Regions from separate parts of the Homo sapiens genome. Here regions 1, 2, 3, 4, 5 and 6 are each linked to region 7. The links come from fine-mapping of genetic effects on gene expression. A gene starts in region 7. Each other region holds a variant in brackets. All regions are shown on one strand. Distances are from middle to middle. Region 1 holds the start of LINC02950 (long intergenic non-protein coding RNA 2950). Region 2 has its middle 62 kb from the start of CLDN23. Region 3 has its middle 33 kb from the start of FAM85B. Region 4 overlaps PRAG1 (PEAK1 related, kinase-activating pseudokinase 1). Region 5 holds the start of LOC105379224 (a long non-coding RNA gene). Region 6 overlaps PRAG1 (PEAK1 related, kinase-activating pseudokinase 1). Region 7 holds the start of PRAG1 (PEAK1 related, kinase-activating pseudokinase 1).

Evidence for each region.
Region 1: its variant is fine-mapped to the expression of PRAG1 in thyroid (GTEx, PIP above 0.99).
Region 2: its variant is fine-mapped to the expression of PRAG1 in tibial nerve (GTEx, PIP above 0.99). The same link has a PIP of 0.9 or more in subcutaneous fat.
Region 3: its variant is fine-mapped to the expression of PRAG1 in monocytes after R848 (Quach 2016, PIP 0.95).
Region 4: its variant is fine-mapped to the expression of PRAG1 in monocytes (TOPMed, PIP above 0.99).
Region 5: its variant is fine-mapped to the expression of PRAG1 in fibroblasts (GTEx, PIP 0.96).
Region 6: its variant is fine-mapped to the expression of PRAG1 in whole blood (INTERVAL, PIP 0.93).

The regions. Positions count from the first base shown.
Region 1 is chr8:8,460,372-8,464,634 of GRCh38, forward strand. LINC02950 (long intergenic non-protein coding RNA 2950) reads right to left here and starts at 1,016. Exons shown (of 3, transcript NR_186598.1): 1 at 749-1,016. It overlaps LOC107986913 (a long non-coding RNA gene), which reads left to right and starts at 54. Exons shown (of 4, transcript XR_001745796.2): 1 at 54-1,039; 2 at 2,051-2,110. RefSeq lists an enhancer at 888-1,182. The variant G/C (reference allele first, on the strand shown) is at 2,082.
Region 2 is chr8:8,637,598-8,641,860 of GRCh38, forward strand. No RefSeq gene overlaps it. Among named protein-coding and RNA genes, the nearest start is that of CLDN23, 62 kb to the right of the region's middle. RefSeq lists a silencer at 2,382-2,431. The variant C/G (reference allele first, on the strand shown) is at 2,309.
Region 3 is chr8:8,258,576-8,262,838 of GRCh38, forward strand. No RefSeq gene overlaps it. Among named protein-coding and RNA genes, the nearest start is that of FAM85B, 33 kb to the left of the region's middle. The variant C/T (reference allele first, on the strand shown) is at 1,711.
Region 4 is chr8:8,340,481-8,344,743 of GRCh38, forward strand. All of the region lies in intron 3 of PRAG1 (PEAK1 related, kinase-activating pseudokinase 1), which reads right to left. Among named protein-coding and RNA genes, the nearest start is that of PRAG1, 44 kb to the right of the region's middle. The variant T/C (reference allele first, on the strand shown) is at 1,668.
Region 5 is chr8:8,557,817-8,562,079 of GRCh38, forward strand. It overlaps LOC105379224 (a long non-coding RNA gene), which reads left to right and starts at 3,545. Exons shown (of 3, transcript NR_188124.1): 1 at 3,545-3,718. The variant TC/T (reference allele first, on the strand shown) is at 2,010.
Region 6 is chr8:8,326,324-8,330,586 of GRCh38, forward strand. PRAG1 (PEAK1 related, kinase-activating pseudokinase 1) reads right to left here. Exons shown (of 6, transcript NM_001080826.3): 5 at 1,387-2,138. Among named protein-coding and RNA genes, the nearest start is that of PRAG1, 58 kb to the right of the region's middle. The variant A/T (reference allele first, on the strand shown) is at 2,498.
Region 7 is chr8:8,384,690-8,388,901 of GRCh38, forward strand. PRAG1 (PEAK1 related, kinase-activating pseudokinase 1) reads right to left here and starts at 1,750. Exons shown (of 6, transcript NM_001080826.3): 1 at 1,632-1,750. RefSeq lists a silencer at 1,453-2,132.

The sequences.
Region 1 (4,263 bases), 76 kb after region 7:
TCAGAGAGCAGAAAGCCCACAGAATCTGGCTACCACCGGGAGATCAGTTGCCCTTTTTTTTTTTTTTTTTTTTTTGAGACAGAGTCTCCCTCTGTCACCCAGGCTGGAGTGCAGTGGTACAATCTTAGCTCATTGCAACCTCTGCCACCAGGGTTCAAGCAATTCTCTTGCCTCAGCCTCCTGAGTAGCTGGGACTACAGGTGCTGACCACCATGCCAAGCTAATTTTTGTATTTTTAGTACAGACAGGGTTTCACCATGTTGGCCAGGCTGGTCTCAAACTCCTGATCTCAAGTGATCTGCCCACCTTGGCCTCCCAAAGTGCTGGGATTACAGGTGTGAACAGGTGTGAGCCACTGCGCCCAGCCGAGACCAGTTGCCTCAATTGTCAGTTTCCTCCTCTCTCCCCTTCTCAGGTCTATCATGGCAGAATTTGTCCCAGAACATAAAACTACAGAACACCCCAGTTTCGGTGTGAGAAAAGAGCCTAGGCATCTCCTAATTTAATGGGCTTCAAATGGTTTGGCTCAGTTGTCCTAAGCAATAAAAATAATTTGAGTATGTAACCTCAATTGATGTATATTTATTCATTTATAAATGACATACTTCTGTACCAACATACTTTAAGACATATACAAAAATTATATTTAAAAAGAAAAATAAATAAAATGATAATATTTTCTCCTGTGCCTTAATGGATTAGCTTTGTTCCTTTTGGGATATGTGAATCTGTTTTGGAGACAACTTACCTAATTCAGCCTGATCTGCTAATCTCCTCTGTAACTCCCCACCAAGAGGAAATTCAACCTTTTCATGAACACTTGGAGGGACACCCAATCCATTTTTGGAAACATCTAGGCGTTTCTTGATTACCATGCTCTGGATGGCCAAATCGGGGGGTTTTCATGCAGTATCACACCTGGACTTCGAGCCACAAGTGAACACTTCTCTGGGCGCCTCACTTCTGGCTCTCCCTGGATCTCACTGCAACCTGAGTGCCAGAGCTGTGAAGACTGCAGCAAAGTCCTCCAACTGCCACGGTAAATATTATCATTGCCTCTGGTATGCAGAAAAGCAAGCCGAGCCGCATTTGCTGCTTCCAGGTGGCAGACACAGAAATGAGAGCAGGGAGGGAGGGGCTGGGAAGGTGTCTGGGAAGAAAGAGATCAATAAGACCTCACTAGTGTGCAGTATTTACTGTAAACAGCCCAAGGTGGTTTGGGGTTGGGGTGAACTGTCAACATAGAACAGTTCTTTCTCAGGGACTGTGGGAGCAGGTGTTCTAAAAGGAAGGATGAAGATAGCAGTTGCAGTGGGATGGGCAATGAGACCCTGGGCTCAGGGAAGTCACTGAGGGTTAATGTGGCCGGGCAGCCAACGTCACAGCACACGAGGCCCCTGCCACATCTTACCCACACATTTCAAGATCCTGTATCGCCACAGTGTGTCATTACTTTGAGACCATGGACTACTTTCTCAATTCTTCAGCAGAGAGGTTTTTTCCAAAGCACACAAATGCTAGTGGTGGAGCTGGTTTAAGGCCAAGAATCCTCAACTGACAAAGAGCTCAGTAAGCCCTGGGTAGGATAAAAAATGCAGGTGTGTCTTGCCCTAAAACATCTCAGGATGAAAGAACTCGTTGGAAGTGCCTCTCCATCCAGATTTTGTCTAAAGCGTTTAAAGGCGGCTCTCTTTCAACAATTAAGCTGGTGTGGGATGGAAGAGCTTTCCTGCAGTTAGGGAAAAACCTTCTCCCTCTTCCTCTTTCCCAGTTCCAGTTGCTTTTGAGTGACAGGCTAACCTGAGCCCTGAAGCCAGATTCAGAATTACTATGGCTTTGAATTTGATCTCTTATTGTTCTATACTGAAAGAGCAATATTCTTTTTGAGGTGAGTGAGTTCCCCATATTGGAAGCTGCTCTGGGTTTGGGGTAGAATCTTCAGGATCCAAGGGAAGAGGACTGAACTCAAAGGAAAAACAACTTGGGTTGTAGTTGGTGGTGAGACTACGCTAACTTTGTTTTTTTTTGTTTGTTTGTTTTGCTCGCCAAGAAAGCCTCTCCTAATTCACCAGTTCCAGAAG[G/C]CTGCCTGCTTCCCTGGCCACAGGGGTAGGTATGTATTCAGGTGTGACCAATCATTCTGTCCTGACGTTAGTGATTGACCCAAGGGTCAAACTGGGTCTTGCCAAGGTCCGATAAATATAAAGTAAATATCCATGGTTGCTCCATAGGAGGCTGTGAATTTGGGGCTCTTGGGCACCGTGTTATTACCTGACATGGGGAGACTTGGAATGAGGCCGACAGACAGGTGGCAGGGATGAAAGATAAATGCAGGCGGGCATGAAGCTGCATGACAGGGAGAGTCCTGGGAGTGTGGAGTCGACCACAACTCCTCGCTCTCCCCAACCCCATGTGAAACCCATCAGCGAGGTCTTTCATCTCCACCTTTGAAAGAGAACCAAATTCTGATGATGTAATGACATCTCACCAGGCCCACTTTGACAATCTTAAGTCCAGAGGGCAGAAGGTCTCTCCTAGAAAACAACAGTGGTGTTCTATCTGGTCTCCCTGCTCTCTGCTTTGCTTCCGCATAGGCTAGTTTCCATATAGCAAAGAGGTCATTTGGTTGTTGTCTGCTTGGCTAGAGAGCTTTGAAACAGTCCTTACATTCTGTCGCTCCTCTGCTCAAACTCTCCAAATGATTCCCATCTCACTCACAGTAAAAGCCAATGCCTTACGGTAGTTTGCCACTCCCTGCAACCTGCTGTCCACCTCTGCTCACGGTCCTCCCCACTGTTCCTTGAACAGAACATGCACGTTCCCAGCTTCACGTCTTTGTATTGGCTATTCTATCTGCCTGGAAGATGGCAGGGCTCACCCCCTAAGCCCTGCAGGCCTTTATTCAATGTCACCTTAGTAGTAGGGCCTTCCCTACCCCACCACACCCCTCCCCTCCACTCACACAATTCTCTGTCTTCTGACACGGCTATTTTTTTTGTAATTTTTGCACACTATATATTTATTTTTCTGTTTGTTGTTGATGTCATAATTTTCATCACCGTGTAGCTGAAACCTGAAACGCTCAGCTGAAACACTGAATGGCCCCTGAAACCTAGTGACTACAATCAGTTGCAATCCTGGCATTCCGGGTGCTGGTCCCAGCTGTTCTTTCCTTTATTCTGCTGGTTTCAACAGCGGCCTTCCCAGCTACCAGAGCCTATTAATTCCCACTTTTGCACAGGCTAACTTGACTTGTGTTGGAGTACTGCCATTTTTAAACCTGGAAATTTGGAGGCGGATCTGTAAAATGTCTAAAGATGAAATACATTGGTTTCCCCCCCCCCGCCCAAGCTTTTGATATTGGTTCAAACTATGGGCTTTCAAGATGCCAATAGCTGAACCCAACACAAATGTAGAGCTTATTCATAGTTTTCATATCATTGTCTCTTGTTAAATTGTACATTCTTAAATTTTTTTGCTACATTCTTAAGCCTGAGTTTTGGTATCTCTTAGGGTCAGCATTCTCCTGTGGGAATTTATCTCTGAAATCAAACCTAATTAAGAGAGTACATGGGGTTCAATTTAGATAACTGCTTACAGTCAACTTTTTCAGATGGGTAACTCATAAAATGAGGAGTACGGTGGTGTTAACACTCCATTTCCTTATCATCGGGGTAGTGTAGGGCTGAAGTGGAATGACCGACAAGGAAACATCTGGAATCAGCTATTTTGTGGCAGTAATTACATATCCTCACCCACTTCTGCATGGAAGCTTCCTCTAGGCTGCAGGCCACTGGTATTCCACCTTTGCTGTACCTTAAAATCACCTGCGTTGAGTTGAAAACTCCTTATATCCAGGCTGCACCCTGGACCAATTAAATCAGATCTCTGGGGTAGGAAAAACATCAGTGAGAACAACAGCAGGTAGTCCTGAGCATATACTGCCTATCAGGTTCCAAGCTATGTGCTTTACATGAATGATCTCATTTAATCCTAACAATTCTTCTATAAGGCGGTATTCTTACTATCCCACCTAAACAGAAGGGGAACTAGATAGAGGTGCACAGAGTTTAAGTAGATTTTCCAAGGCTTTTTGCAGGGAGCCAGTGAAGAGAACCAGTTACTAATCTAGACAATCTGACTTCAGAGGCAAAGCTCTTTCACAATTTGCTTTTTATTTAAAACATGAAATGTACATAATCAATTTTATTATATATTATATATAATATTATTATATTATATATAATATATATAAATTATATATAA
Region 2 (4,263 bases), 250 kb after region 7:
GTGGAACCAGCAACTCACTTCTCCAGCATGCCTCTCTGCTGCAGAGATCTCCTCTCTTTCTTTTGCCTATTAAACTTCCATTCTGAACCTCACTCTTTGTGTGCCTGCGTCCTAGTTTTCCATGGCCGTGAGACAATGAATCTCGGGTATTTACTCCAGATTATTACCCCAATAACGCCACTTCATCGTTAGTGTATATATATATATATAGAGAGAGAGAGAGAGAGTAATAAAATAGCTAGCACTGACTGAGTACTAACCTTGAGCTGTATATCAAACTCTTTATTACATATTACATTTTATTACATTTTATTAATGTAATAACTCATTATTACATTTAACCCCTATAGTAATCCTATGAGATAGATATTATTGTCATTTCCAGTATATAAATGAGACAACTGAGCCTCAGATATAGTACTTTATGTAACGAACGTGGCATGGCTTCCTTCAAAATCTGCTCTCTTGACCCTTCTGCTGTCCTGAATATCATTAAGAAACACAAATATGTTATACAACTAAAATAAAACCATCATAAAGCAGCTTATATAACCAAAGGCTTCTCAGCCTCCACATACTGGCTGTTTTTTTTAAGCAATATTAAATGAAAGAATGTTCTAATAAAATCAGAAATGTCATATAATCTTCCGATGCTCCTAAAAATGGAATGTGAATTATGGTCAAACTATTAATAATATATTAAACTATCCAGAGAAAGAAGGCAAAGATAGAGGTGTGACTTGCTTTTTCTCTGGATAGATAAGATCGTCAGACCAAATGAAACCATACAAACCACACATCAAGATGTTTGACAAGCTCTTCCTGGCTCCTCCAAAATGTAATTTTGGCAGCAACTTTGGACAGAACATCAATTCAAATACATAAATAAAAGGACATGGATTATCACAAAGAGGACAGCCCAGAACTCAAATATTTTCTATTGACATTGAAAATAACTTAAAAAGTGATGATTACTCTGGAAATGTTTGCATTGTGGACCTTAATTTCTCTGTGTAATTCCCTCTGTGAGGAAGCAACTAGCAAGGGACCTAACTGGGTGTAGAAATCAGGAAGCTGTGCTGAGGAGGTGATATTCAAGTTTCTCATCTTGAAGGAGGATTAGGAGTTGGGGAGGGAGGGTCTGGGGGAAAGAAGTGTATACACAAAAGGCTGAAGGCAAGAGAGTGCACATGAGGTGAAACCTGCAATCGTTTGGTGTAACTGGAGGTTAGTGTCTGAGAAAGGGCGAGCTGTGGAGGAATTTATGCCTATGGTGGCAAGAAGCTATTGAAGAGTTTTGCTAAATGTTAAGTGTATCTACTGTTTCCCAGGCTTTATTTAAGGATTCATGAAATCATGTTTGTAAAACCCATTTGCAGCCCTTAAAAACGAATACTAAAGAAATACCAGGGTGTTTACATGTTTTCTTGCAGATGACAAATGCAAAACACCATCCATAAGGTTTTTAGGAAAAAAACTCGAGGATTTCATTCTAATTGTGAGGAGACTCCCAGACGTGTCATTATAGCTAATCCCATGAAGCCCAAGTCACAGATAAAAAAATTACTTTAAATGGCAAATATGCACTTATTTATAAACAGATTTGATAGAATCACACTTCCAAACACGCATTTGCTTATTATTCCCTGTAAAATGACAAAACTATCACCTGATTGTTCATTAATTCTCCTGGAACATTCCAAACCTACCCAGGTAACAACTACTAAGGGTTCACAAAACATTTTTAGCTATTGATTTCCCAGGCACGCCACAAGCGATGAACAACAGCCATGATCTATGAAGCCGCTGCAATGAAGCAAAGCTACAGCAATTACTAAGTACTTGAGTGAAGTATGGAAAACTTCACTGTTGGATAAAAAAATTAAACCTAGTTTCTGTACCCAATGGGTCATGCTAAGTTACATGTTACATGACTAAGTAATCATGACTTTGCCAAAAAGGTACAAAATAGGCACAAATGGCTCTCATCCCTCCTCATCCTCTTCTTGTCTGAGGACAGTGATGAATCATGCTGACCACCTCTCTCTGGAACTTATCACTGCTATGCCTTGTTAAAGCAAACTAAATATGGCCTGGGAAGGACTCCATACTTCTGTATTTGAGTCCTTGTGGACGAACTGCAACCTACCTTAGTGTGCAGACAAGATTGAAACCCTAATTTAGGATTACAGCCTGTAACAATAGCTGAGTCTCAGCCAATCTCAGCAGCCACACTTCAACCATTCATACAGTGCTGAGTGTTCAGACTGTGTTCAAATAACACAAATGCCAAGCTGTAACCAATCCA[C/G]CTGTTTCTGCACCTCACCTCTGATTTCTGTACGTCACTTCCCTTTTTTTGTTCTGACCATGAGGTACCCCTGGAGCCTCTCTGAATCTGCAGTAATTCTGGGGGCTGCCTGATCCGTGAATCATTCATTGCTCAATTAAACTCCTTTAAATTTAATTCTGCTAAAGTTTTTCTCTTAACAGCCCATTTATCTATTCAACACATTTTATTGAGCTCTGTTCTGGTCACTATGCTGGGCAACGGAAGAGAGAAATTAATAAGACTTAATTCCTGCCTTTGAATTGCTCACAGTGAGATGGGACAGGCATGTAGATTTTTAAAAAAAGAATGCAATACAGAGTCAGGACTAACAGAGCCATCGGAATATACAAGGCCTTATTTGTAACTTTGAGATATATGTTGTCCCCAGAACCAGGGTCATAATAAAAAATAAACAGGAATTCCCAGCTGCCAGCTTTCACTAAACAGTCTCTTACCCAGGACAACAGTTAATCTTTAATAGGAAAAACAGGAAGCATCCTATTCAAAATCCTGGTTGAAGGATGCAGACTGAATATTCATTAGGGTGGGGGTGAAGGCTGAGGGGAGCAGGAGTGAGAAAATAGCAGGAAGCCAGGAACACCCATGGTATGAGAATTTCTTGAATTGTTGAGATGTGTTTCCTAGACAGCTTCCACGGAGGAGGAGGGCTGTTGAAGATGTTCTCTTGTTAGATGCACTGTAACAATGACGACTAGTTTAGATCATAAAATATTCTTTAGTTCCTGACCATTTTCAGTTCACACACTCTGTATACATCTTACCATTGAGGCATATGAGAGTGAAAGCATCACTGGCTTTCTGTACTGTCACCTAAAGTCACAATTTTTAAAACACAGAGGCTGTATGAAACCATAATTATGATGTAGTGCAGCCAGGAGAACTAACAAAGAAGAATACGCTTTCTTCTTGCTCTTGTTGTTTCTCTTGTTATTAATCCACTGCTTTTCTGCTATTGACATTGGGCCTGGCTAAATGGTTGGTGGACAGGTAAACCTAGAGGCAAGCTTTCAGAGAGGGCATCATATATATACAGTAGTGCTAAAACACAGGACAAGAAAATAGTTCTAGAAAATGAGGGTTTGTCTTCCTCTCTATTTCTCTAAAAGAGGAAGGAAGAAATGCATATTAGCAGTGTAATTAAGTCAGATGTCTTGCTGAATTAAGACATTATCTCTGAATGCAGCCCCTCTAAGGGACAGCCAGGAAATTTGAAAGGTGACCTAAAAAGAGGATTTTATTGTAAGAACTGAAAAATACTTGCTGGCAATATTTAAGTAGAAGTTAAATGCATTTGGCTGAGCTGCATAAAGGAAATCGATGTTCTCTATTAGCTAAATTCGAGGACATTCACGTCTGCTTTCCCAGCCCTTGAGAATGTATGAGGTCCAACAACCCAGTTCTTTCAAAGTCAGTCACAGCTTCTCACTTCCCTTCTTCTCCTCCCTCCTCCTACACACTCTGCCTCCAGCCTTCATCCTCCTAACTCCCAGACAAATGCACAAACATCTGTGTTCAGGTTCCTTCCCTCACATCTTCCTGGGAGGATGGGAGCGGCAGTCTGACTGCCTCACAGTACCACTCTGACATTGGTCACTCCTTCAGAGTCTCTTATCGGTGTACAGAGGACAACCAACTCCAAGTAAGGGGGCCAGGGGGTACACATGACGCAGATGACACTTCCTATTCTAGTATCACCTCCTACTCCTCCCCAGACAACACAGGTGAAGTCTTGAGGGGGAAAATTAGTCATAGAAAGCGGGCAGGAGAGGCATTGTGGGTGCTGAGTAAAGTGGAGAAAGTGAGAAGAAGGGGCTGGGCACGGTGGCTCATGCCTGTAATCTCAGCACTTTGGGAGGCTGAGGTGGGATGATCACTAGAGGTCAGGAGTTCAAGACCATCCTGGCCAATATGGC
Region 3 (4,263 bases), 130 kb before region 7:
CGGCTCACTGCAACCTCCACCTCCTGGGTTCAAGTGATTCTCCCACCTCAGTCTCCTGAGTAGCTGGGACCACAGGCATGCAACACCATGCCCAGCTAATTTTTGTATTTTCATTAGAGACAGGATTTCACCATATTGGCCAGGCTGGTCTTGAATTCCTGAGCTCAAGTGATTCACCCACCTCAGAATCCCAAAGTGCTGGCATTACAGGCATGAGCCACCACACCCAGCCAGAACATTCTTTTATTATCCCTTTAGGATGTATAGAATCCATAGTGATGTTACCTCTCTTATTCTTGACATTAGTAATTTGTGTCTTTTCTCTTATTTCCTAATAAGACTGGCTACAGGTTCTCATTTTAATTTTTCTCCTTAACAAAACAGCTTTTGGTTTTATTGATTTTTCCTCATTGTTTTATTGTTTTCTATCTCATTGATTTATATTCTTCATTATTGCCTTTCTTCTGCTTACTTTGGGTTTACTTTGCTCTTCTTTTACTTCTTTCTTCAAATGGAGGCTGAAGATATTGAGTAAGATGTTTCTCCATTTCTAATATAGGTGTTTGGTGCTTAATTTCCCTTAAACATTGTTTTAACTGCATCTCATAAATTTTCTTTTTCAACTATTTACTATATCTTTTTGGGATATTTTAATTGTATTACTTGGTTTCCAAATGCTTGGGGATTTTCTAAATATCTTTTATTTATATCTACTTTATTTCCATTGTGATCAGAGACCACGCTTTGTAGGATTTTAATCTTTTCATATTCATTGAAACGTAATTGATGGCCCAGAATATGATCTATCTTGGTAAAATTTCCCTGTACACCTTGAAGGAAATCAAAAGCTTTCTCTCCAAAATGTTGAGGATTATTAAGTTAGAAAGACGGAAAGCTCAGGGCAGCAGTATGCCTCAGCATCTGTGTGCCTGGCAGCAGGACAGCAACCCTTCCTTACCAGAGATGGCAGTTGTTTGTCAGCCCAGAGAAGGTACCAGCAGGCACCAGAAGAATCAGGGAACAGATTTTACCATCTTCCCACATTTTCCCACCTTTTCCACAAGACTGTAACTGCTTTCTTCTTTGTCTTAGAACTGTACAGGACACAGGGCTCTTTGTTAAAATACTATTTAAGCAAGGCCTGTTGTATCTACCAAGCTAGGGACAGGGGTTACAAACACGTCCAGGGCAGAGTTCCTTCCCTCGAGGAGTTCACAATATGTGTGAGAGACATGTACATTCACAGTGGCCATGCAAAGTGATAAGTGGCTTTTGAAAAGGTAATGTGTACACTGCTATGGACCCTGAGGGAGGGGAGAATGACAGACAAAGCAGAAGATTCCAGAAAACCTCCAAAATAATGGGAGCTTTGACTCAGCCCAGAAGGACCTCCTCTTAGCAAGTCTCCTAGAGGCCAGTCTGTTTAGAGCTGCTGTCTGTTACATTTTCTTCGGTCCCTTTACCTAACGTCTCCTTCAGCTCCCTTAGCCTTGGCAAAAGGCAGAGGAAGAGGAGAAAAGCATTTCCATCAATGGAGTCATTTTGCGTCACAGGGCACTACATGTGGTGATGTGGCTAGAACGGTCCTTGTAAAAATAGCCTGAGCAGCTAATATCCAGTCAGCTAAACGGACCCCATTGCCATTTAGTGTCCGCACTTGTTTCAGTAAAGGCTGAAACCAAGTACAACATATGAAGTCCACAGCCTCCA[C/T]GTGTGTACACCAATGCCTTCCTTCCACAAAACAGGTACTCAGTGATCATTTGCTGCTTGGAATTCATATCATCAGCTGAGCTTAATCAAACAAAATCACCCTTCAGAGACTACTAACCCATGAGGCTATAAAGTAAGTCCATTGATTTTTGTTCATCACCTAAGCTTCCATAATGGAAATTAATGAAATTGAATTTTAAATGAATGAATTTAAAATGAATGAAATGGACATTAATGAAATTATCTCCTTTGGGAAGGTTCACCCAATATAAGCTGCAACTTTGGGAATAAAATGGCAAAGGTAACAAAACAGCTGTATTGGTTGTATTAAAGTGGGCAGAGGAATGAAAAAGAAACAGGCTGATTACGGAAGGAGACAGTGCTGATCTTGTGCCTGTATCAGAGAGGGCATCCTCCCTGGCAAAAAAGGAAGGGAGAGAGGCTGAGAGCTCTCTATGCCTTGAGTGGATAAAGGCGGCACAGATTCTCTTAAGTGGCTCCAGAACTAAGCAGCAAGTGAAGGGGCTGAGATTGGGACCAGTTCCAGCCAAAGGGCTCTTCATCACTGCCAGCTGCCACACAAGTGGCCACTTCTGGAAACAGGCACCTGATCAGGAACTCCCTTCCTGCAACCTACTTCTCTTTTGCACATTGAGGAAGTATTCACTGGGCACCCGTCATGTCTTGGGCGTTTTGCTTTGCTTGAGGGACATGCCCTTGAACTGCAGTTCCCCTTAGCCTACTTCTGGATGAATGTGAATTTCCTCTATTCAGTACATCCAAAACAACATACGGACATGAAACGGATAGTAGGAATAAGAATATAGCTGCTATAGGCCAGGTGTGGTGGCTCATGCCTGTAATCCCAGCACTTTGGAAGGCCGAGGCAGGTGGATTACTTGAAGTCAGGAGTTCAAGACCAGCCTGGCCAACACAGCGAAACTCTGTCTCTACTAAAAAGACAAAAGTTAGCCAAGCATGGAGGCATGTGCCTGTAATACCAGTTACTCGGGAGGCTGAAGCAGGAGAATCACTTGAACTCGGGAGGCGGGGGTTGCCAAGATCGTGCCACTGCACTCCAGCCTGGGTGACAGACCTAGGATGCATTTCAAAAAAAAAAAAAAAAGAATACAGCTGCCATTAAACTTGGTTTGTTTGCACTGAAATGCATTTACTGATCTCATGGATAGTGGCTATATCAGTCCATTTTCACACTGCTGACAAAGACACACCTGAGACTGGGAAGAAAAAGATGCTTAATTGGACTTATAATTCTACATGGCTGGGGGTCCCCAGAATCATGGCAGGAGGAGAAAGGCACTTCTTACACGGTGGTGGCAAGAGAAAAATGAGGAAGAAGCAAAAGCAGAAACCCCTGATAAACCCATCAGATCTCGTAAGACTTATTCACTATCTCAAGAATAGCACAGGAAAGACCAACCCCCATGATTCAATTACCTCCCCCTGGGTCCCTCCCACACACATGGGAATTCTGGGAGATACAACTCAAGTTAAGATTTGGGTGGGGACACAGCCAAACCATATCAGTGGCTTTTATAGGAAGTAAAAGGAAGGCTTTAAACTTAAAAATAATTTACTAATAAAATATAATTTTATTAATTTTGCAATCGGGGTTCCATTGCTAAATAGTTTGAAAACCACTGATCTATGCAAACTTTCTACCCCATGTAGGAATCTTCTCCCAACGGACTTTATCAGTGGTCATTGTTCTTGTTCCTCCAGTGACAATGTAGCCCTTCTATTTGCAGAGGTTCTTATAGAAAATTTTTCTTTTTGCCTTTGTTTCTTCATGTGTGGATTATTGCCATCCTGCCACTCACTGTGGTTTCCATGGAATCTTGTGGAGGAATCTGTTTATATATTTTTTTGGCTCACACATCTGTTATTACAAAAGCTCCTCTACTTTTATGATCTAATTAGGCTCTGCAAAGGAAACAACCAAAAAACTTAGTGGCTTAAAAGTAAAGCAATATATTATATCTCTTGATTTCATAAGTTAACCAGTTAAGTTTTCCTGATGGTCTTGCCTGGGATCATTGTAGCAACTGCATTTAGTTGGCTGATGAGCTGGGGGCATAGCTGGGGTTCCTTGGTTCTCCTCTATTTGATCTTTCCTTTGGTAGCCTGAGCTTCTTTGTAGCATATTGACCTCAGAGTAGTTGGACTATGTACATGGCAGCTGGCTTCCAAGAGGGAGAAAGAAGAAACTGTCAATCTTAAGTCCTGGGCTCGGAGGTTCAAGAGTGTCGTTTCTGTTATATTCTTTTAGGGGGAGAAATCAAAGCAAGTAAAGCAAGTTAAAAGATCTGGCCAGGTTCAAGGGGAAAGGAAATAGACTTCATTTCTTAATGGAAGAAACGGCGCATGCAACCAGTGGTAGAAGGAATTGCTGGTGAACATGTTTGCCTACCACCAACCATACCTAAAAATTTGTAAATAAGCCAATTTCCCCCATGTAGGTTCTTATGGCTACAAGAGGCTTGTGATTGTGGTTCCTCACTGCATTATCATCCAGTAGGACAGTGAATTGTT
Region 4 (4,263 bases), 44 kb before region 7:
TCCCCTGCTGGTGGAAACCCACATTTGTCTGAACTGATATTTCCTGATGACATTCCTGTTCCTTCTACGGCAGATCCATATCTCAATATCTGCTATGGGAAATATACAGTACAGTACTGATTTGGCATCAGAACTGCCTTATTTAATGCGCATGACCTTACGGTCAAGAATTTATTGGCTGTTCTTTGTGTTCAACATTGCCAGGCCCTGTTTTAATTTTCATAGTCACGGGAATCCCCTGTGTATCAACAGGAGGGTTTAAAGTTTGTTCGCTACCACAAAAAGTGCTCCTTGAAAACACGTCCCTCTCCCCACTCCCAACCCTTAGAATCGTACTTTTAAACTGTGTTAAATCTGTCAAAAAAAAAAATGTGACAGTGAAGGCAACATTATGACTAATCTTCATCTTTGTATCTCAGTATCGCTGTGGGAACCTTGGAAATATCAATTCCTTAGGAAATGCTATGGCAGTAGCTGATCCTTGCCTAATCTCCTGGCAAAATAAAATCAGACAGTTTCATACAATATTCTTATATCCACATCAGATCTATCACTAATAGTTTTCTCCAAGGGAAGCCAGGATATGAAGTCATGCATAACAACTCCTCAGTCTAGGAGAGAAGCCAGAGCCAGCTCTGTGGCTATCCCCTACTTTGCCCCTTCCAAAGTGGTTTCTAGAGTTTCTTGGTCTTCAGGCCCAGAAAATCACTAAGGGAGAAACTACAGCACCATGGCTACAGAGCTGGCACAGCTTCCCACTCCACAAACTTCATGAAATGTATGTAAATAGACAAAACCAAAAAATACATAAACATGTGTATGTATGAGCATATATATATATTCATATACATATGCACACACACACACATACTTACTTAAAGTAACAGCCAAGATTAAAAGAAAGAACAATTCTCAGGTGCCAGATACAAAGAGGGAACTCCACACACAGGCAGTACAAGGGATCCTTCAATACTAAGCGTATATTTACTACAGATTTCAGTAGACGCACTTTATCAGGCTAAGGATGTTTATTTCTATTTCAAGTTTTCTAAGGTTTTGTATTTCAAAATCATTTTTGGCTATTAGGGTTTATTAAATGCCTTTTCTACATCTATGGGAAAAAAATCATATCATGTTTCTCCTTTACTCTGTGAATGTGATGAGTTATGTTAATAGCTTTTCTTAATTAAGCCATCCTTGCACATGTTGTATGAACTTATTTTACTACACATTGCTGGATTCAGTTTTACTCATATTTAGTTTAAGATTTTTACATTTACATTCAAATAGAGGCTAGCCCATAATTTTTCTTTCTTGTCCTGTCCTTGTCCAATTTGGATATAAAGGTTAAAATAGAATTATAAAATGACGGCCGGATACGGTGGCTCCCTCCTGTAATCCCAGCACTTTGGGAGGTCAAGGCGGGCAGATCACTTGAGGTAGGGAGTTCGAGACCGGCCTGGCCAACAGGCCAACCCCATCTCTACTAATCATACAAAAATTAGCCAGGCATAGTGGCCTGCGCCTGTAATCCCAGCTACTTGGGAGACTGAGGCAGTAGAATCGCTTGAACCAAGGAGGCGGAGGTTGCAGTGAGCCGAGATGGTGCCATTGCACTCCAGCCTGGGTGACAGAGTGAAACTGTGTCTCAAAAAAAAGAAAAGGAA[T/C]TATAAAATGAATTGAGTAACTTTCACTTTTTCAATTATCTCATGTAATTTTTTTTTTTTTTTTGAGATGGAGTCTTGCTCTGTTGCCCAGGCTGGAGTGCAGTGGCACCATCTTGGCTCATGCAAGCTACGCCTCCCGGGTTCACGCCATTCTCCTGCCTCAGCCTCCCGAGTAGCTGGGACTACAGGAGGCGCCCACCACCACGCCCCGCTAATTTTTTTGTATTTTTAGTAGAGACGGGGTTTCACCGTGTTAGCCAGGATGGTCTCGACCCCCTGACCTCGTGATCTGCCCGCCTCGGCCTCCCAAAGTACTGGGATTACAGGAGTGAGCCACCGCGCCCGGCCTTATCTCAGGTAATTTTTATAAGAGAAACATTATGTGTTCTCTGAAAGATTGCGAAAACTACCCTGTAAAACCATCAAGGACCAGTTGCTGTATAAATGAGATCAGTAAAGATCTGGTTCTGATAAATCTAGGACCAACATTTCCAGGACACAGACCCAAGAAACAGACTGGAGGATTAACAAGTCAATTCATGGTACTTACACCAGCTATTTATGATGTGAAGAAAAAAAGAAAGTAGAGCCATATCTCATACCGTGTAGAAACACGAATTTTCAACAGAAAAGAAACACCCATTAAATTTTAAATTCATCAGAAAAAATAACGAGAAAACTTTATGAACTTGGGGTAGGAAATAATTTTTAAAATAAGGGCTAAAAAATAGCAATATAAAGAAAAAGATAAATCTGACTACTTTAAAATTTAAAACTTCTGCCTCATAACATAAAAGTCACCATTAAAAAGTGAAAAAAAACAAACCTTGGAGTGGCCAACTCACATCTTTGCAACCCGCATTACTAATAAAGTACTGGTAGGCAGAATAAAAAAGAGTGCCTATAAATCTAAGAAACAGACAAATGACCCCATTTTTAAAATGGAAATGAACAGGCAACTCACAAATGAAACAAGAAAGGCCACTCAACACATGAAAAGATTATTAAAATTATGAATGATCAGATTGTAAATAAAACAAGATTTCATTTCATACCCATCAGATCAGACTGACAACGTCAGATTTTGTTAAAGATATAGGGAAATAGGAACTCTCTCACACTGTTTGTGAGACTGTAGATTGGTAAACTCACACACAGGACAACAATGTGATGAATCTTGTAAAGTTAAATACACACATTCCTATAATCCAGTCACTCCATTTTTGGGTATATGTCCTTGAGCAATGTTACTTAAATAACTAGTAATGAATGAATGGCTAAGTCACTTGAGTGGGTCACTAGCAGTTTACTGACCAGCAGTTTATTTTAACAAAACAGAACAGAACAGAAAATATGAAAATACATAGAAAGGATTTGTGAAACTTTGTTTTGTAAAACTTTTGTTTCAGATGTGTGTTTGTTGGGTCATGATATTAATGTTTCTTATTGTGGGTCATGGTTTTTAAAAAAGGTTAAAAATTACTGCTCTAGAATATGAGTCAACAAACTTTTCCTTAAAGGGCCAGATGGTAAATATTTTAGGCTCGTGGACCATAAGGGTTCTGTTGCAACTACAGAACTCTGCTGTTGTAGCTGGAAAGCCACCATAGAAATTAGTGGCATGTTTTCTAATAAAGCTTTATTTACAAAAACAGATGTCTTGCATGTGGGCAATCAGTTACTGGCTGGTCTTGACCAGCCTTGTCCAATAGAATTATAATGCAAGCCATATATGTAATTTTAAGTTTTCTGGTAACCACATTTAAAAAATGTAAAATAAATGGGAAAAAATAATTATAGTAATACATTTTATTTAACATAATGTATTCAAAATATTGTCACTTTAAGCAGTAATCAGTATAACCTATATCAATTATTAATGATATATTCCATATGTTTTTTTCATCCTAAGTCCTTAAAATGTGGCATGCATTTTATATTTACTCACATTGCAATTCTGACTAACCACATTTTAAGCTAGTGGCTACCATACTGTGCAGTACAGAGCTGGAGAAACTCTTATAAGTGGAGAAAGGTGTTCACAACGTTACAAATAGCAAATAACCTTCTAAACTGTTGAACGGTGCTTCCACAAAGGAATGAAAACATTGTGGTATAGTCTTTTGGTGGGATACTTTATAGCAGTAGAAAAAAATGAACTGGATTTTAGGGTAGCAATATGAAGAAATATTTTAAAATGCTGAGTATTAAAAGTAATTTACAAAAGGCTCAAGTAAAATGTGATGCCATTTGTATAGAGATTAAAAACATATAAGGATATATACATGTTTTACGGAGCACATAATAAAATGTAAATGATACTCATCAACTTCAAGACAGTGATTGCTCTGGGTAGCAATGGGAGGTTGAAATGGGAATTGGATAGGGAGGGATCTTCCACAGTAGCAGTAACATTTTATTTTTAAAAAATCTAAAGCAAATGGCAAAATGTTAATATTTGAAAAATCTTAGGGAACACCTGCAGGTCAGTTAAATTATTATCTGAACTTCACTGCATGCTTGGAATATTTGATACACTAAAAATGAAAATTTCTAGTGAGAAAGCAAATCACAGGGCCTGAATGAGGCAGGGGGT
Region 5 (4,263 bases), 170 kb after region 7:
AAAAACAAACCATAAGCACAAGGCTTTTATTATTTTTAAAAGCAAAAAAAGTTTGTGAGAAAAACAATATAAAATAATAAATTGGCTAAGTAACTTGTGATATGTAAATTAATATGATTTTAAGTACCTATTAATATATGAAAACCATATGAGCATAAAATTGTTTATAGCAATGCTAAGTTTAAAAAGAAGGAAAAGTCTACATATAATATGATTAAAATGCATAAAAATATGTAAAATGTAACTAAAGACTAGAAGGAAGCCATGGAGAAATTAGAATAATTGTGCTTGAGTCATGAGATTTTGAACGAAATTTTCAAAAAAAGTACAAGATTTTATTTTTAATGGAAATTTCTTTGTAATAAAGTATTTTAACACAAAGTATTCTCTTCAGCAACATAAAATTATTCTAAATAGAGCAGATTATGTGTTTCTTCAGACGCAAACAGGGTTTTCACCTCCTTATTTTTACCCTCAATCAGATAGGTAGCATTGTGTGTGTATTCTTAGCATCTGTATTCTTACAATTCTTGCAGTTCAATCTCCCTAGTGTAAAAAGTTCCTTTTTTAGTTTCTCCCCCAAATATGAAAACAATCAAGAAGCTATAATAATCAAAACAGTGTGGTATTGACATAAGGATAGACATACAGATCAATGGAATGGAACTGAGAGCCCAGAAATAAAATCATACATCTGTGTTCAATTGATTTTTGACAAGAGTGCCACCAAGACCATTCAATGGGGAAAGGATAGTCATTTCAACAAATGGTGCTGAGACAATTAGATAACCACAAGCAATAGAATCAAGTTGGATCCCTAACTCACACCATCTACAAAAATGAACTCAAAATGAATCAAACACATAAATGGAGGAGCAAAGACTATAACTCTCCTAGAAGAAAACATAGGGGTAAGTCTTCATGGCCTTGGATTAGGCAATGATTTCTTAGATGTGACACCAAAAACCACAAATGCAAAAGAAACAATAGATAAATGAGACCTTTTATCACAATTAAAAACTCTGCTTCAAAGGACACCTGAGGTGGGCAGATCACCTGAGGTCAGGAGTTTGAAACCAGCCTGGCCAACATGGTGAAACCCTGTCTCTACTAAAAATATAAAAATTAGCTGGGCGTGGTGGCACGTGCCTGTAGTCCCAGCTACTCAGGAGGCTGAGGCAGGAGAATTGCTTGAACCCAGGAGGCAGAGGTTGCAGTGAGCCAAGATTGCATCACTGCACTCCAGCCTGGGTGACAGAGTGAGACTTTGTCTCAAAAAAAAAAAAAAAAAAAAGAATATAAAAAGATAACCCAGAAAATGGAAGAAAATACTTGCAAAGCATATATCTGCTAAGACACTTGTATCCAGAAGATTCATTTGGAACATTACTAATCTAAAATTTCAAAATCCGAAATTCTCCAAAATTCAAAGCTTTGAGTACTGATATGAGATAGTGACACCTTTGCATTCGAATGGGTCAGTGTAGACAAACTTTGTTTCATGCACAAAATTATTTTAAAATATTGTATAAATTACCTTCAGGCTATGTATATAAGGTGTATATGAAACATAAATAAATTTTGTGTTTAGACTTGTGTCCCATCCCCAAGACATCTCATTATGTATATGCAATTATTCCAAAAATCTGATAAAAATTTGAAATCTGAAACACTCCTGGTGCCAAGCATTTCAGATAAGGGATACTCAGACTGCATAAAGAACTATTACAACTCAACAACAAAAAGACAGATAATAAAATTTTAAAATGGGCAAAGAATTTGAATAGTAATTTCTCCAAGGAAGATACACAAATGGTCAATAAATACATGAAATAAATGCTCAGCACCACTAGTCATTAGGGAAGTACACATCAAAACCATAATGAGATACCACTTCATATCCACTAAGAGAGCTATAAAAATAATAATAATGAGAATAACAAGTGTTAGTGAGGATGTGGAGAAAGTGACTCCCTCATACATTGTTGGCAGAAATGTCAAACAGTAGT[TC/T]CGGTAGTTCCTCAAAAAGTTAAACATGAAGTTACAGTTAAGACCAAGCAATTCCACTCCACCTAGGAATATACACAAGAGAATTGATAACAGATATTCACACAGAAACTTGTACATAAATGTTTATAAGAGCATTATGCAAAACAGCCAAAAAGTTGAAACAACCAGCCGGGCGAGGTGGCTCACACCTGTAATCCCAGCACTTTGGGAAGCCGAGGTGGGCGCATCATGAGGTCAGGAGATTGAAACCATCCTGGCTAACACGGTGAAACCCTGTCTCTACTAAAAATACAAAAAAATTAGCTGGGCGTGGTGGCGGGTGCCTGTAGTCCCAGCTACTCGGGAGGCTGAGGCAGGAGAATGGCGTGAACCTGGGAGGTAGAGCTTGCAGTGAGCCGAGTTCATGCCACTGCACTCCAACCTGGGGGACAGAGCGAGACTCTGTTTCAAAAAAAAAAAAAAAAATTTGACACAACCCAAATGTTCAAAAGATAAATAAGGCCCTGGGCGCAGTGGCTCACGCCTGTAATCCCAGCACTTTGGGAGGCCAAGGCAGGCAGATTACTTGAGATCACGAGTTTGAGACCAGCCAGGCCAACATTGCGAAACTCCTTCTGTATTAAATTAGCCTTCTGTACAAAAATTGGCCAGGCATGGTAGTGTGTGCCTGTAGTCCCAGCTACTCGGGAGGCTGAGGCAGGAGAATGACTTGAACCCAGGAGGCAGAAGTTGCAATGAACCAAGATTGTGCCACTGCACTCCAGCCTGGATGACAGAGTGAGACCCTGTCTCAAAAAATAAAAAAGAAAATAAAAATAAAATCAGAAAAGATAAACAAAATGTGGTGTAAACGTAAAATGGAATATTTTTAGCAATAAAAATGAAGTGCTGATATACACACTACAATATGAATGAACCTTGAATATATTGTGCTAAGTGAAAGAAACCAGTCAGAAAAGACCTCAAAGTATCTGAGTCCATGTATATGAAATGTCCAGAACAGGAAAATCCACAATGAGAGAAAGCAGATTAGTGATTGCCAGGGGAAGGGAGGAGGAGGAATGGGGACTGACTGCTTAGGGGTAAAATATACCTTTTTGAAGTGATGAAAATGTCCTGGAATTGGATATTAGTAGTGGCTGCACCCCATTGTGAATAAAGATAACTGATTTGTACACTTTAAAATGGTTAAAATGGTAGATTTTATGTTATGTGAATTTTATCTCAATTTTTTAAAAAGCTTTCTAAGTATCTGAAGACTACAAGAGGTGCATATTTTTTATTCACAAAGAATTAGTAAGTCTTTCAATGACAGAATTTCCATCTTTGAGTATTGTGTTTGAAGGTTATTTTGTCTCACTGTTTTTCCCCCAGATACTTCTAAAGCTGCTGTGCTCATAACTAGGGAAGCAGAAGAGGAGATCGTCCTCCTGCCCTGGCAACCAGGGATGATGGCACGTGCCTAGGCTCAAGCATGGCAATTCTCCCATCCAGAACTTGGAATCTTCGGGGTATGTCACAAAGACCCAGGGTCAGTTTGCAAATTATTCCCAGAAGTTGTGGCAGCATCAAGAGTCAGGCAGGGGCAGCAGCCCACGTTCAGCTGGAATTCTGTGGCTTAACCCAGGGGTTTTCTATGTGTCATGAGAGATAACACAACACTCTCACCAACGAAGTTGAATAAATTATATTTAGGACTCACAAGCTGGTGAGTTCTAGGAGGGAACAGCTTATGTTGGAAGGCAACTAAGGTGGTTTAGGGGCGGCTTTGGGCTTTTATTATGGCTAGGGGATGAAGTTGGGCTGGGGCTGGCACATGGGCTAGACGGGGTACTATCTGAGGTTCCTGGACATTGACAGGGGCACAGAACATCCACGGTCTTCTTAACTTGGTTGCCCAGGTGTGGGGCAAGCAGGGAAGGGGAGTGGAAACCTACCAGCTGGCGATGGACAAATGTCGCAAATGGAGTGAGCTCCTTTATAACATGCCTTGTGTGTTATTCCAGGTTCTCACTTCACAGAGCTGATAGTGTGAGATCTCAAAGAAACTGCCATGAGAGTCCTTTTCATATTAAGTTAACCAGACTTGATTTCTGTAGCTTGCAATCAAGAATCTTAACTGATGCCAAAAGAGTGAGGAATTTTGAAAAACACTGACATGCCATTTCAGATTAAACAAACAGACATGCAAACAAGCACAGAAGAACTGTGAGCACAGTTCCAAAGCAATGAGACAGATTTTCACAAATGCGT
Region 6 (4,263 bases), 58 kb before region 7:
TGTTGGTAAGCAAGCTACCCCACCAAGGCCATTTCAAATTAGCTTATTCTTTGCACTTTTCTAACTGGAAAAAAAAGCGATGTCTTAGGGCAGGTGATGAGAGAAGATAGCTCAGGGTCTCCCTCCTGACTCCCAATAAAAGCCCACATTTATAGAAGGGCCAGGGTCTCAATAGGTAATCAAGGAACAGCAAAAGAAGATGACAAATAGGGCCACAGGAAGGACTGGAGTTCATGGTAGAGACTCCAGTGGCCCAAATGGGTGCAGATGGCTCAACTAGCTCACACAGAGCTGCACTCTGACAGTGCAATACAGTGTGGGTAGCAAGAGGCCTGATCCAGCATCAAAGGTTAAAGAGCTGTGCTGCCTTGAGCTAGTCACTTAATGTCTCTGAACTTCATTTATCTTAAATGGTAGGGACATAACTTAGGCTTTGGAGACAGACACAGAAGAGCTCAAATCCATTCCAGCCACCAACTAGCTATGGGCAAATTACTTAACCACTTTGAGCCTCAGATCCTCCATCTGTAAAACCTACCTAACCTGTAGGATTACTGTTAGGATTAGAGGTAAGAGTCTAGTTGTAGAGTGAATGCTCACACAAATGATATTATTACTATTATTGTTCAAGATGATTCCTAGGTCGAATGCTCCTTCTGGATCTAACATTAGAAGAATGACCTCATTATCCATCTCCCTCACTACATCATAGCTCTATAAGGAAGCTTATATTCACACCTACATACTCAGATTGTGGCAAAGTACCTGGCCTATAGTAGACACTCAATAAAAACCTGGTCAATAAATGAATAAACTCTCCGTTGCACTAAAAGGCAACTGTTTTCTTAACTCAGCTAAAGCACAGAATGTGTCTTATATTCATACTACAAATCTCATTGCACCATGTCCTGGGGCAGAGAGAGAGTGAAGCTGCTGAGCACTAAGTGTTAAAAGAATGCTTAGGGGTCAGGGGTGGTGGCTCACACCTGTAATCCCAGCATTTTGGGAGGCCGAGGTGGGTGGATCATCTGAGGTCAGGAGTTCAAGACCAGCCGGGCCAATATGGCAAAACCCCATTTCTACTAAAAATACAAAAATTAGCTGGGTACCGTGGTGCACACAGATAATCCCAGCTACTCAGGAGGATGAGGCAGGAGAATCGCTTTAAAATGGGAGGCGGAGGCTGTAGTGAGCCAAGATTGTGCCACTGCACTCCAGCCTGGGCAACAAAGTGAGACTCTTATCTTACAAGAAAAAAAAGAATGCTTAGGAATCAACTCCCCTCCTAATGCCCAGACAGGTGAAATGACTTGCTCAGGCCACAGTTCTGCCCAAGCCAGCACCAGCCAGTGGCACAGCAGAATGCAAGGAGGGAGTGGTACCTACTTTCACAGCATAGGTGCTGCCGGGGTCCTCAGAGCAGGTGGCACAGTAATAAATGGCATCCCCCGAGTCACAGCAGGGCTTGTTACAAGTCAGCTTGAAGAGCGACCAGTTATTCTCATTGAAGTGGAGCTCCTTTTTCTGGCCGCCCATGAAGAGGTCCTCACATTTGGCTACAAGGCGGGCCAGGGACTGGGTGTAGAGTCCCCCCAGCTTGGCATAGGTGCCCTCCTTGCTGCTGATGTTGCTCAGGAGACCGTGCAGCTGAAGCTGGGTGCTCCCGGTGGAGGCTTGACTGGACACGCTCAGCTGGGAGGATGAGGCGGAGGGGGCCCCTTTGCACTGGAGGCCAGGGCTCCCGCAGCCGCCTCTGTTGCCCGCCAGCCCTGCTGCCGGAAGCCAGTGGCCACTGCCTTTGAAAGCTTTCTCCAGAGGATCGGAAGAGGAGAAGACAGGATGGTGGCGGTTCCCGGGGCTCAACGAATAGCTAAAGTGAGATTCGTCGTGGACGTTGGTTTCCGAGTGGCTTAGGTTCAGCTTGGGGCTTGCTGTTCCGGGCTTGGGGGAGCCTTGGGTCCAGAAGAAGCCATCCGGTGAAGAGGCTGCCCGGCTCACTATCTTTTTCTGGGGGAGTGGAGGGGGCTGCTGGGGGCCACTGGGGGACACGTCCTCAGTGGAGCCTGAAGGAAACGGAACGGGAGCAAAGAGCTTCTTCCCGCTGTTGGTGGGCGAGTGAGCCAGCTCAGACGAGGGACCTGAAGAGGAGAGACAGAAACCATAAGACCAAGGCCAGTGCCACTCAATTCCAGGGTCCTGCAGACTTGTTTCCCTTTATTTATTTATTTATTTGGTCAGAGCAATTAATTTTATGTTACTTCTTTTCTATTTCTCTAATAGACAATATATGCACAATGGAAAAAATCAAAATGCAGAAAAGGTATAGATTGACAACTAAGTCTTCCTCCTACCCTGTCCCTCATACTCAGCTCTCTCATCAGAGGAAACCACTGTCAGTAGTGTTTCATGCATCCCTCCAACAATCCAAACAAATGCGTGCCTGCACGCGTGCGCACACACACACACACACACACACAAATTACATAGAAAAGAGCAA[A/T]CGGTGGCTACTGTTTGGAATAATGCTTTTCTTTCACATCTTGGAGAGATTTTTAAATCAAATATGCAGATCTATTTAATTATTTTAAACAGTCTCACCATAATATATCACCATATGCAAGTATCATAATTTAACCATCCCTTTTTGATGGACACTTAAATTGTTTCCAATATTTTGCAAACAATGCTGCAACAGCAATAACAAACTCGAACATGTGTGGTTTCCGTGGAATTTTTTAAAAGTCAGGTTTATAGAGGGTGTAACTGGCCAATGGTAAAATTCTCCCTTTTGGCTGGGTGCGGCGGCTCATGCTTGTAATCCCAGCACTTTGGGAGGCTGAGGTGGACGGATCACTTGAGCTCAGGAGTTTGAGACCAGCCTGGCCAACATGGTGAAATCCCGTATCTACTAAAAATACAAAAATTAGCTGGGGGTGGTGGTGCGTGCCTATAATCCCAGCGACTAAGGAGTCTGAGGCAGGAGAATCGCTTGAGCCCGGGAGATGGAGGTTGTAGTGAGCCAAGATTGCGCCACTACACTCAGCCTGGGTGGCAGAGTGAAACTTCATCTAATAATAATAATAATAATGGGTTGCAGCCCTAAGGAAATGTGTACTTAGGATGTGTGCCCCTCATTGAGTTCTCCATGCCACATCACCCTAAGGGAAGAGCATGGAGTGTCTCTATGCCTTTCCACACCTTGGCAGTAGGACCAGAAAACAACAAAAAAAAGCAGAACAAAAGCATAGGAGAAGACAAGGGGTAGAAGGCCCCAAAGGAAGCAAATTATGAGTCTTGTGTCACCTCACTCAGGTGCACAGGACATTTCTAGGGCTGCTCCTGAACAGTTAATAACCTTCTAGCTCACACTGAGCCCTTCTCTGCTTTCTCCAACCCAAGAGGGAACAGAATAGATCCCTGAGGCTCAAACACCAGTTGCAAGCCACATAGATCAAGACTGGGTCTCTTTATTTCTGCTGCTCCACAGGGAGGAGGGTCTCTCTAGGGAGCAAGATGGATGGCCATGGGCTGACATTCATGCCCCAGCCTCAGTGACCGAGGCAGCATTAGTGAGCGACAGCAGGGCACAACCTTGAATGCAACGCTGACGGGAGGACAAACTCAGTGCATGCAACCTGTTGAACACAGGAGCTGAGAACCAATGGATTCATGCAAAGAAAAGCCCTGGGGAGCTGAGCAAGACTATGGGGTCCTTGCACCAATATCCTCCTTGGCTCTATCATCTATCATAAGACTCAACAGGGGCTGGGCACGGTGGCTTATGCCTGTAATCTCAGCACTTTGGGAGGCCAAGGCGGGAGGATCACTTGAGCTCAGGAGTTCAAGACCAGCCTGGGCAAAATGGCGAACCCCCAACTCTACAAAAGATACAAAAATTAGCTGGGCGTGGTGGTGCATGCCTATAATCCCAGCTACTCAGGAGGCTGAGGGGAGAGGATCACTTGAACCTAGGAGTCAGAAATTGCAGTGAGCCGAGACTGTGCCACCGCACTCCCACCTGGGCTATAGAGTGAGACTGTCACAAGTGAAAATGAAATTCAAGAGGGAGCACCGTGTTTCTTAAGCTCTCCTTGCCCACTTTCCCATCTGTAGTAAGCAATCCTTGTTTCCCTGTGGTTTATCAAGATCATAGGGAGTTGCCCTTCCCATTTGCTAATGATAGGCGGGGCCCCTGGCAGCAAGGCTGAGTGAGTGATTTATACCCCTTCCAGGAGGGCTCAAGTTAATAATAAATCAAGCAGTGGT
Region 7 (4,212 bases):
AGATGGTGAGAAACACAAGTGGCACCCACAAAGCCTTGCCTCGCCTTGCCTGGTGCAGCAGTGCCAGCTCTCCACAGCATGGGGAAGGCACTTCGCAGCCCACATTCCTTACTTCTGAGGGGAGGCAGCCCCCAGAATTATGCAAATCCTCCCCATTTCAGTAGGAGGCTGCAGTGTCAGATTAGAAAAAAGAGCTCAGCATTCTTTCTGATCCAAGTCATGAAAAAAATGTCTTTGCCTCTGCAAACTTCTGCACTAGATTTGTGGCTACAGTTTGCAAGACTGAAGCTGTCAGATACACTCCCACCCCATTTCAAAAAAGAATCTGAAGAATCAAGGTGGCCAGATCTTTAAGATTAAATATTTTGGCCCAAAATACCCCCTCAGACTTACATCAGAAGTTGCTTATGCCTTATTCTGAAGTGACAGAATTGCAGAAAACATTCACCTAAAATTTTTTTCTGTATGTTACAGTTAAATTAATGCAACGCCAGTAAAAGGAAAGAAATATGTGTGGAAAGTGTCTGAACTTCAGCACACTCCACTGGCCAGGGCTGACCAGGCAGAAAGGAGAAAGTGACAACTTTACCACCCACTAGCCCCCTGCCTCCCTACTCACGCAGAGGGTAAATTACGATATTCACCCAACTTTTCCTTTTCTTTTTTCTTCCTCCAGTGCTGGAGGAAAGAAAATCTCAGAGGGAGGAATGTGGTTTTGCACCCACTACAGTCGAAACCAACCAGACCTCAGGAGAGAAAAATAACTGCGGAATTCCCTAGGGCTTTCTGTCAAATTTTCTTCTCAGAAAGGGAAGGGGAGAGGAGTTGTTAAGAATAGTTCAGGCCAGTGATCAGGAAAGCCTTCTGAGCCTGACTCCGCACTGAATGCATCGCCAAAACTCCTCGCCCCTAGACCATTGGGCTTTGCTATCGGCTCTGCAAAACCATGTGCAGGGAGAGCTTACCTGAGAGAAACGCACACACCGTGAGCTGGCGCTCTCCGCTGCGAATGCCCGGCCGCCTCCATGCCCAGCAGAGGATTCTATGTTCTAAGTGTGTGTGTCCCCGGATACCAGCAAAGGTTAATAACGTGCTCACAGCATGCGTTTCAGAGGGCTCAGCCAGGGCTCGGGGAAAAGGGCATCATCTCGTTGCCTCTGGAGCCCCGCTGCTGCATACCCTGCACCCCCAAACCATCCCCCCGGGTCCTGGTCCCAGCAGCCAGGCGGCCTTCCGTCTCTCCCCCTTGACAATACTCTAGCGGTGGAAAGCAGTCCTCAAAGCGCTTCAGCCTCCGGCCGCAGACAGAGCAGCAAGACCAGAGAAACCATCCTAACAGTCGGTCCTCCCTCCTGGAACTCGTAGGAAAGTTTCCCCGTTTTAAAGAGCGCGATTCTCGAATGAATCAAAAACACCCTCCAGCTCCTCGGTCCTCCCGGCCGGGCGCCTCCCTGCACCTCGGGCACCACCCGGGGCTCACGCGGCCCCGGCACTGCCCACTTCCCGAGCGGTCGCCTGTCACCCCGGGGGTAGCCCGCTCGGCGATCGCAGCGCCCCTCCAAAGCTCCCCTCTGCGACCACGCTCGCCAGACAAAAAGAGGCCGAATTTGGAGAGCGCGTCGCGGGCTCACCTCTGGGCTGCGCTCCCCCGGCCCCTCCGTCGGTCTCCGAGCCGCCAGCCGCCCGGCCGGAGCATTGTTCGCAGAAGGTCTGCGCGCGGTGCGTGCCCGGCCGCGGGCGGGTGGCTTCTGCCTGGGCCCGGCGGCCGGGTGGCAGCTGTGAGCGCGGCTCCGCCCCCTCCGCCTCCGGTGACGCCGCCCGCCCCAGCTCACGCCGCACCTCCGCAGTCCCTGCCGCCGCCCGGCCCCGCCTGGCCCGCGCGCCCCGCCGCCCGGCTTGCGCCTGCCGCTCCCACCCGGCGGTCTCCTACCCCCAGGGCCCCGACTCCTCCAAAGTCTCCAGGCCCCGGGACTCCCTCTCTTGCCCACCCTCCCGCCCCGGACCGGCAGGCTCCGCCCCCAGCCCCAGACTTGGCGCGGGCTGACCCCCGAGCCCAGCACCCGTTTGCACCCCCTCCTCGGTGGGGACCCTGCACAGCTCTGGAGGGGCGAGCTCTGGCGTTGCAATCCTCCTTTTGCCATCATGCGTGTATAGGTGCCCGGCATCACTTCATCCAGCCGGCCCTGCGGGACCCTGGGAAGAGAGGGAGAAGGAAGGGGAAACGAGGAAGTGTGGGGTCGGGAGTGGAATACAGGTCAGGGTCCGAGGCGGGCTCTGAAAGCCACGTGAGCACAGCGAGCCTCAGCTCTCCCTACCTCTGGGAAGAGGGTGGCGCCGGAGGGAGCAGGGCTGGAAGTCCCGGTGGCGGATTCCAGGTTCCGCTCAGTCCCTGGACTGCAGGATTCTGGCAAATTGCTTAACCTCTTTGAACTTTAGTTTTCTGGATGTAGAATGCAAGCGTTGCACTGCAGGGACCTGGCCTTCTACCATGCTGGGACATCCAAGTCTTCCGCAGGCCAGTAATACACCTGTGTTTACACCGTTTCCAGTGAGTCATTCACTGAGATAGAACGAGTTCGAGATAGTCCTCGGGCTAAAAAAATCTTTTCACTGGGAGTATAATAGCTTAAGACCCAGTCAGTCCTGTAGCTTGACCTGGGTGTTTACTCGGGGAGCCAGGGCTATGGTCACCTCCCAGGGCCATGCCGGGTGGGAAGAATTCAGTGAAATGGAATAGGAAGAGGACCCCCCTCCCCCACAAAACAATACCTGCGGCTTCTCTCGCCCTCTATCCCCTCCCCAGGAAGGCAGTTTATTTTGACTCCAGTGAAGGTCCTCTGCCAGTCAGCCTGCGAGCCCCCACCCACTGAGAGGAGGAAGATGGGCCCCCACCCCCACCCCCAGATCCCTGGCTCTCCTCTTTGCTGCTGTGGGTGTGGACAGAGAGGGAAGATGTGTATTTGAGGTTTGGCTTCTGTGTGAGGAAAGGGAAAAAAGGATCCAGGGAATTCTTCCTCATGTTCCAGTGACACCCATGCCTCCTAAGAGGACAGAATCTGGGGGAAGCTGTAGAGGGATGGGAGTGCAATGGACATTCCTTAAGGACCTACCCAGCGCTAAGCAATCCTATGAGGAGAGCATCATTATCCCCATTCTACAGATAAGAAAACTGAGGCTCGGGGGCCTCACAATTTGCTGGGGTTCCTCAGCTGAAAAGTGGTAGTACTAAGATTGGAACCAAAGGCTGTCTGGCTTCGCTGGTAGGCAAGTCTACTCTGCCACTCTGCCCTTGCCAAGTGCAGGTAGTCCAGCCCTATTTTTCTCTCTCCCCTAAGTGGAGAGAAATCATTTGAACAAATACTGGCCGTGCGCGGTGGCTCACACCTGTAATCCCAGCATTTTGGGAGGCCGAGGCTGGCAGATCACCTGAGGCCAGGAGTTCAAGAACAGCCTGGGCAATGTGGTATAACCTCATCTCTACTAAAAATACAAAAATTAGTCGAGTGTGGTGGTGGGCGCCTGTAATCCCGGCTACTCAGGAGGCTGAGGCAGGAGACTCACATGAGCCAGGGAGGTGGAGGTTGCAGTGAGCTGAGATCGCACCACTACACTCCAGCTTGGGTATCAGAGCAAGACCCTGTCTCAAAAAAAAAAAAAAAAAAAAAAGGAAGGGAAACTTTGGTTACACTTCATGAGCATCCAACAGAGCTGAAAGATCCAGACCCTACCAAGACTCAAGAGGGGAAGATGTTGATTAAACAGGTAGGTACAAAGTGGTCTGCAATGGAGAAATACAAAAGTGACTTCAGAAAGTGTGCAATTCATTTACACTGGGAGAGGGCAAACTAAGATGTTTGAGAAGTTCCTGGTTCTCAGGATTCAGGCTAAATGTTTCACTTCTTTCCTCTGTAAGAGAGACATTGACCTCACAGAATAAAGGCTGTGCTGAACACATAAAAGAAGCACTTACTTTTGCACTTTATTTTCTTCTCTTTACCTAACTTATTCTTTTTTTTTTTTTTCCTGGGATGGAGTTTCATCTTTCAATCAGGCTGGAGTGAAGTGGCAAGATCTTGTCTCACTGCAGCCTCCACTCCCCGGGTTCAAGCCATTCTCCTGCCTCAGCCTCCTGAGTAGCTGGGATTGCAGGCGGCCACCACCATGCCCTGCTAATTTTTCTATTTTTAGTAGAGACAGCATTTCACCATGTTG